2 linked regions of the Homo sapiens genome follow. The protein of the gene in region 1 purifies or fractionates together with the protein of each later gene. This does not show direct contact. Each region holds a gene or a part of one and is shown on either strand. Other genes may lie near its edges.

The links.
Region 2: the proteins of PRKG1 (region 1) and ZKSCAN1 purify together in Homo sapiens (affinity purification with mass spectrometry; 2 studies listed by BioGRID and IntAct, with this or other methods). This does not show direct contact.

Annotation. Positions count from the first base shown.
Region 1 is NC_000010.11:52,288,148-52,292,038, reverse strand, and holds part of PRKG1 (cGMP-dependent protein kinase 1), read right to left. Parts: intron 3,314-3,891; coding exon 3,191-3,313; intron 3,109-3,190; coding exon 3,046-3,108; intron 1,816-3,045; coding exon 1,749-1,815; intron 1-1,748. UniProt on the Homo sapiens protein: Serine/threonine protein kinase that acts as a key mediator of the nitric oxide (NO)/cGMP signaling pathway. GMP binding activates PRKG1, which phosphorylates serines and threonines on many cellular proteins.
Region 2 is NC_000007.14:100,021,782-100,025,672, forward strand, and holds part of ZKSCAN1 (zinc finger protein with KRAB and SCAN domains 1), read left to right. Parts: intron 1-1,113; exon of another isoform or gene 1,114-1,273; intron 1,274-1,637; 5' UTR 1,638-1,725; coding exon 1,726-2,151; intron 2,152-2,372; coding exon 2,373-2,526; intron 2,527-3,891. UniProt on the Homo sapiens protein: May be involved in transcriptional regulation.

The DNA of each region.
Region 1 (3,891 bases):
AAACACATGAAAAAATACTCATCATCACTGGATCACTGGCCATCAGAGAAATGCAAATCAACACAACAATGAGATACCATCTCACACCAGTTAGAATGGCGATCATTAAAAAGTCAGGAAACAACAGGTGCTGGAGAGGATGTGGAGAAATAGGAACACTTTTACACTGTTGGTGGGACTGTAAACTAGTTAAACCATTGTGGAAGTCAGTGTGGCGATTCCTCAGGGATCTAGAACTAGAAATACCATTTGACCCAGCCATCCCATTACTGGGTATATACCCAAATGACTATAAATCATGCTGCTATAAAGACACATGCACACGTATGTTTATTGCGGCACTATTCACAATAGCAAAGACTTGGAACTAACCCAAATGTCCAAGAATGATAGACTGGATTAAGAAAATGTGGCACGTATACACCATGGAATACTATGCAGCCATAAAAATGATGAGTTCATGTCCTTTGTAGGGACGTGGATGAAATTGGAAATCATTTCTCAGTAAACTATCGCAAGAACAAAAAACCAAACACCGCATATTCTCACTCATAGGTGGGAACTGAACAATGAGAACACATGAACACAGGAAGGGGACCATCACACTCTGGGGACTGTTGTGGGGTGGGGGGAGGGGGGAGGGATAGCTTTAGGAGATACACCTAATGCTAAATGACAAGTTAATGGGTGCAGCACACCAGCATGGCACATGTATACATATGTAACTAACCTGCACATTGTGCACATGTACCCTAAAACTTAAAGTATAATAATAATAAAAAAATAAAAAAATAAAAAAATAAAAGAGTGATCACGTAGGCCCAGCGCGGTGCTCACGTCTGTAATCCCAACCCTTGGGAGGCCGAGGTGGGAGGATCACTTGAGGTCAGGAATTCAAGACCAGCCTGGCCAACATGGTGAAACTGTGTCTCTACTAAAAATACCAAAATTAGCTGGGAGTGGTGGCACTTGCCTACAATCCCAGCTACTCAGGAGACTGAGGCAGGAGAATTGCTTGAACCTGGGATGCAGGGGTTGCAGTAAGCCGAGATCACGCCACTGCATTCCAGCCTGGGTGACAGATTAAGACTCCATCTCAAAAAAAAAATTAAAAAAAAAAAAAAAAAAGAGTGATCATGTAAAGACTCTTTGAAAAAGTGTTATTTTATTTCTTTTTTTAGAGACAGGGTCTTTCCACTCTGTCACCCAAGCTGAAGTATAGTGGTACAATCACAGCTCACTGTAAGCTCAAATTCCTGGGCTCAAGTGATCCTCCTGCTCCAGACTTTTGAGTAGTTAGGACTATAGGTGCACATCAGCACACCTGGCTAGTATTTTCTTTTCTTTTTTTGTAGAGACAGAGTCTCACTATGTTGTCCAGGCTGGCTGGTCTTGAACTCTTGAACTCCTGGCCTCAAGTGATCCTCTCACCTATATATTTTTGTCTGCATTTCTATATTTTGAACATTTCCCATGCTAAAAATTAACTTATGTTCATAAATGAGGGAAACTTGAATCAAATGAATAGTTAAAAAAGAGAAGAGTAAAACACATTTACAGTGACTATCCCCAAATTTATCTGCTTTCAAGTTTGGATTTTAGAATATGTCATTATTTTAATGTGACATTTTTCCTAGAGTTTGTTTAACTTAATCATAGGATTAAACTTTAAAAATAACAGATCATTGTTGACTGACATAAACACCATCAATTATGTCACACAATTATAAGCTGGAAAGTCTACTTACACTTGGTATTATAGGAGGTGTCAAGGTACCTTTTCTTAAGCCTTCCCAGTTAAAGCCCTCAAACCATCTAGAAAAGGAAAAAACGTTGATAAAAACATTTTGTGTCAGCTAAAAGCTTCTCATTGCAGTGTATACAATGTCCATGGCTAATGGGAAGCAGTTAGGCAAACATTTTCATGTGACAAAAATGTTTTCTATTTAATTGCATATGTTTTCCTAATAGTTTATTTTATGAAATACATATTTTTAAAAGTATAACTGTCAAATTTTAAACACCAATTAACATGCAACACTTATTCCTTGTAATTCAGTCATAATGTCTCTATGACCTTGTTCCTACACTATAATTAAAATTTAATACATGTCATAATGTGTCTGGCCCTGTGCCTTACAGGATATTTTATTTTAAGGAGGTAGAACCAGGGCATGAAAAGTCAGGATAGAAAATTAACTTTCCATTTTTGCCACTGATTCAGTGCACAGTGTCAGCTAATTAACCTTTTCACATCATTGTCATAGTCTCTACATGTCCCATTTTCTTCTTTTTTTCCCTTTTTTAATGAAGAATAAAGATATTTTGTGTACAGTTTTTCTGTGAAAATAAGAACCAAAAAAGACTAAAGTTTTTGCTTGTTTGTTTTCTTTTGTCTTTGAAGGGTTTCAGCATTAGCAAATGCTTACAACAAATTCTTAGCAGGCTTTTCAGATATTCAGAGATATTTTAGTAAACATGTTTCTTTGATAAGGATGTGAATTTCCTGTCAGTGTTACACAAACAAATAGAGAAAACCCAATTAGTTTAGCTTTAGAACATCCAATCAACATAGGGAAGGTCTGATATTTAAGATGTTGCTATTGTTTAAAAAACACTGTATTCTGTACTTATGTTTTTCTCCTGTTATAACATCTAATTAGGAAATGCTTGGAAAAATATATTTTGTCTTTAGGAAATCAGGTAAGATACAGTAGGGGACTTTTATTTGTAATTCTGTGGTAGAGAATAGAATCCCCAAATTTAAAATACACATTTCCCCTTTGTGCCAGAGGGGAAAAAAATGCTAGTTGGTATGAGTTGTAAGAAACTGAGTTCAGCTTCTTATGTTACAGGGTTGTCAGATAAATATAAATAAGGTTTCATAATCACAACTAGAAAGGCATTTAAAAGCCTTACTAGTTTATACGCTGTCTTTGGATGTTCCTATAGGCTAATTATACTAGTTTTACACCAATAACTTAAAAAGCAACACCCTGGGGAAATGATGTCACGTGTTCAGAACTCTGCAGAAAGAACACTTACTTGTGCTTTTGAATGTCTTTTACTCCATTTTTCAAATTCCCTAATCTTTCTGATGGATTGTCCCTAAAAATAAAATAATGGTTTTATTAAATCTAATTTTTTCACATTATGATGTTTTCAAAAATAATGTGGTTGAAATACTTACCTGCATAGTTTTTTAATTAAATTAGCAGCATTTTTGGCAATCTTCTTTGGAAATTCTATCATGTCAATCCCCCTCAATATGATGTTATAGGTTTTCATAGGATCTGGGCCTGAGAAAGGTGGGCTGCAAGAATGAGAGACACGACAAGAGATATTACTTTTATTTTCTACATGAGAACACTTGAATTGCTATAAACTCCACAGATGACATCAATTCATATTTGGGGGCTTAGATTAATAGTGACAATGGAATGAAAATAGATTAATAGCAAAACAGTGTGGAAGCCCTTCCAAGTAAATCACTTAGTGAAACCAGAAATGGGTCAAGTTTATCTGCTCTTCTCTTGCTTTCTTTTAAGTGCTGGAGTCTAAGCCCTCATGCTGTCCTTGGTCATTCAAGATGCTTCTTCTACTCTCTGACCTTTTCCACACTTACTGACTCATTGATTATACTTGAGATGAAGTCCAAAATCATTAGGAGGGGCCGCAGGAACACCAACGATACTACCCCACCTCATGCCATTACCACCCTCACTCACTGGGATCCAGAAACAATAGCCTTCTCTCTGTTCCACTGAAATGCCGAGCACTTTCCTACCTCATGGTGTTACTTATTTGGTCTGGAAGGTTCTTCCCATACTTATCTGGCCAATGCCTCACTTTATCAAGTTTCAGTATAAGTGTTATGCTGTTTCCTCCAAA
Region 2 (3,891 bases), on another chromosome or scaffold:
TCACCCAGGCTGGAATGCAGTGGCGTGATCGTAGCTGACTGCAGCCTCAAACTTCTGGTTTCATGCAATCCTCCCACCTTAGCCTCCTGAGTAGCTGTGACTGCAGACACAGTCCCCATGCCCAGCTAATTTTTTTCTTTTTCATAGGGACAGGGTCTTGCTATGTTGCCCAGGCTGGTCTCAAACTTCTGGCTTCAAGCATCCTCCTGCCTCATCCTCCCAAAGGGCTGGAATTATAGGCATGAGCTACCATATCTGGCCACAAGAATCTTTAAAGCTGCTTGTCTCTTTTATGACAGAGTCTCGCTCTGTGGCCAGGATGGAGTGCAGTGGCGCGATCTCGGCTCACTGCAACCTCCGCCTCCTGGGTTCAAGTGATTCTCCTTCCTCAGCCTCCCAAGTAGCTGGGACTACAGGTGCCCGCCACCGCGCCCAGCTAATTTTTCTATTTTTAGTAGAGACAGGGTTTCACCATGTTGACCAGGATGGTCCCGATCTCCTGACCTCGTGATCCGCACGCCTTGGCCTCCCAAAGTTTTGGGATTATAGGCATGAGCCACTGCGCCCAGCCAAAGCTAGATTTAGAAATCCATTATTTCACATAACTGGTCTCAGATAAACCAGTCTACATCACAATGTCTAAAATGAACAACACCTGTGACAGGTCAGCACAGACTAAGTAAGTGTATTAGTGTCAATTTATAGCTTAATTTCTCTCTCTTTTAAGATACAGACATTCCAATTATTTTCTTTCTGTATCCTTTGCGGATCATCTTGTACTTTGGAAACCACAATTTAACTGCCCAAGTCACTCATAAAAATAGCAAAAGTAGCTGGATGGTACAAAAGTAGGTCCCAGGGCTTCAAATTTGGTTGAATATTGACTCCAGTAGGCAGCCACCTACTACTGAGCAAACCTAACCCTCAGTTATGTCATTTGTAAAACAGCACTTAACAGTTTGGCCGACCTGCTAGGGCTGTTGTAGGGACAAAAGAAGATGGTGCGTGTACTGCTTTAAGCCTGGCACCTGGCACTCTGCTAACATTCAGCTCTCTGGGCTGGGCACTGTTAATGCTCCATTTCGTAACCTGCTGTCAACCTGCAGGTAAATCACTCTGACTCCAAGCAAACACCCTGAGGGTGGAGTCGGCCTGTTTGAGGTTTCTGTTTGCAAATCTTGATATATGAAGTGACAGTGGAGATTGTACAGTTTTTTCCTCGATTTGTCAGGATTTTTTTTTTTTTGACGGAGTTTAACTTCTTGTCTCCCAGGTAGGAAGTGCAGTGGCGTAATCTCGGCTCACTACAACCTCCACCTCCTGGGTTCAAGCGTTTCTCCTGCCTCAGCTTTCCGAGTAGCTGGGATTACAGGCGCCTGCCACCATGCCCTGCTGACTTTTGTATTTTTAGTAGAGACGGGGTTTCACCATGTTGGCCAGGCTGGTCTTGAACTCCTGACCGCAGGCGATTGGCCTGCCTCGGCCTCCCAAAGTGCTGAGATTACAGGCGTGAGCCACCACCCCCGGCCTCAGGAGCGTTCTGATAGTGCCTCGATGTGCTGCCTCCTATAAAGTGTTAGCAGCACAGATCACTTTTTGTAAAGGTACGTACTAATGACTTTTTTTTTATACTTCAGGAATAGTAAAGAAACACATCATAAAACCTCCCAGGACATAAAGGTGAGCACAGACCCTGTTTGGATCAAGTCAGTTCCTGGAGCCTGAATGATGACTGCTGAATCACGGGAAGCCACGGGTCTGTCCCCACAGGCTGCACAGGAGAAGGATGGTATCGTAATAGTGAAGGTGGAAGAGGAAGATGAGGAAGACCACATGTGGGGGCAGGATTCCACCCTACAGGACACGCCTCCTCCAGACCCAGAGATATTCCGCCAACGCTTCAGGCGCTTCTGTTACCAGAACACTTTTGGGCCCCGAGAGGCTCTCAGTCGGCTGAAGGAACTTTGTCATCAGTGGCTGCGGCCAGAAATAAACACCAAGGAACAGATCCTGGAGCTTCTGGTGCTAGAGCAGTTTCTTTCCATCCTGCCCAAGGAGCTCCAGGTCTGGCTGCAGGAATACCGCCCCGATAGTGGAGAGGAGGCCGTGACCCTTCTAGAAGACTTGGAGCTTGATTTATCAGGACAACAGGTAAAAAGAGGTGAAACCTATTATGTGTGAGCAGGGCACAGACGTTGAAACTGGAGCCAGGAGAAGTATTGGCAGGCTTTAGGTTATTAGGTGGTTACTCTGTCTTAAAAATGTTCTGGCTTTCTTCCTGCATCCACTGGCATACTCATGGTCTGTTTTTAAATATTTTAATTCCCATTTACAAAGTGATTTACCCACAAGCCCAACCTGTCTGTCTTCAGGTCCCAGGTCAAGTTCATGGACCTGAGATGCTCGCAAGGGGGATGGTGCCTCTGGATCCAGTTCAGGAGTCCTCGAGCTTTGACCTTCATCACGAGGCCACCCAGTCCCACTTCAAACATTCGTCTCGGAAACCCCGCCTCTTACAGTCACGAGGTAAGAAGCAAGGTTTCATTTAGGGGAAGGGAAATGATTCAGGACGAGAGTCTTTGTGCTGCTGAGTGCCTGTGATGAAGAAGCATGTTAGTCCTGGGCAACGTAGCGAGACCCCATCTCTACAAAAAATAGAAAAATTAGCCAGGTATAGTGGCGCACACCTGTGATTCCAGCTACGCAGGAGGCTGAGGTGGGAGGATTGCTTGAGCCCAGGAGGTTGAGGCTGCAGTGAGCTGTAATCATGCCACTACTCCAACCTGGGCAACACAGCAAGGACCCTGTCTCAAAAGCTACTTACAGAAAAGAATTAGGCTCGGCACGGTAGCTCACACCTGTAATCCCAGCACTTTGGGAGGCTGAGGCGGGCAGATCACTTGAGGTCAGGAGTTTGAGACCAGCCTGGCCAACATGGTGAAACCTTGTCTCTACTAAAAATATGAAAATTAGCCAGGCATGGTGGCACATTCCTGTAATCCCAGCTACTCGGGAGGCTGAGGCAGGAGAATCACTTGAACCCAGGAGGTGGAGGTTGCAGTAAGCCGAGATCGTACCACTGTGCTCTAGCCTTGGTGACAGAGCGAGACTGTCTTAAAAAAAAAAAAAAAAAAAAAAGAATTAATTAAAAATTTAAAAAAAAATGAAAAAAAGCTGCATGCTTGTTTTTTGTTTTTAGTTATTCTACATTGTTGTCATTATTACCAAATATTGGGGAAAATACAACTTACAGACCAATCTCAGGAGTTAAATGTTACTACGAAGGCAAATGAACTATGCGTAATGAACCTGGTAGGCATTATTTATTGAATTATCAGCATTCCAGATGTCCAGCACATTTTTAATAGGAAAGTATTGGGAACAGATGTCATTATTTTCAGCCTAGGTTTTAAAACATTTTAGTATGTCATGAATTATCTTCAAAAGGATCATAAATCTTTTTTAAAGGTCCATTTTATTTAAAATATATAAAAATAATCACTGCACTGCAGCCTGGGTGACAGAGAGTCTGTTTCCAAAAAAAAAAAAAAAAACTATAGCATCAGTCTTTTCTAGGTTATTTTCAGAAATTTCAAACAATGGGAAAAGAATGGAAGAACTTTTGAGGGGAGTTGAGGAACACGAAAAAAGATCAGTTCACAGTCATATAAATAAAAAGTCATGTTACTTGTTTTTTCTCTTTTGACGGAAATATGTAATACATTTATCCAGTTTTAAAATCAAAGTATGTGCTTAGAATGTAAAGACAAGGAATGCTAAAAGTACATTTATCACTTAATGGCAGGGATAAGTTATGGTAAGTGCAATGTTAAGTGATTTTGTTGTGCGAACATCATAAAGTATACTTATACAAACCTAGATGGTCTAGCC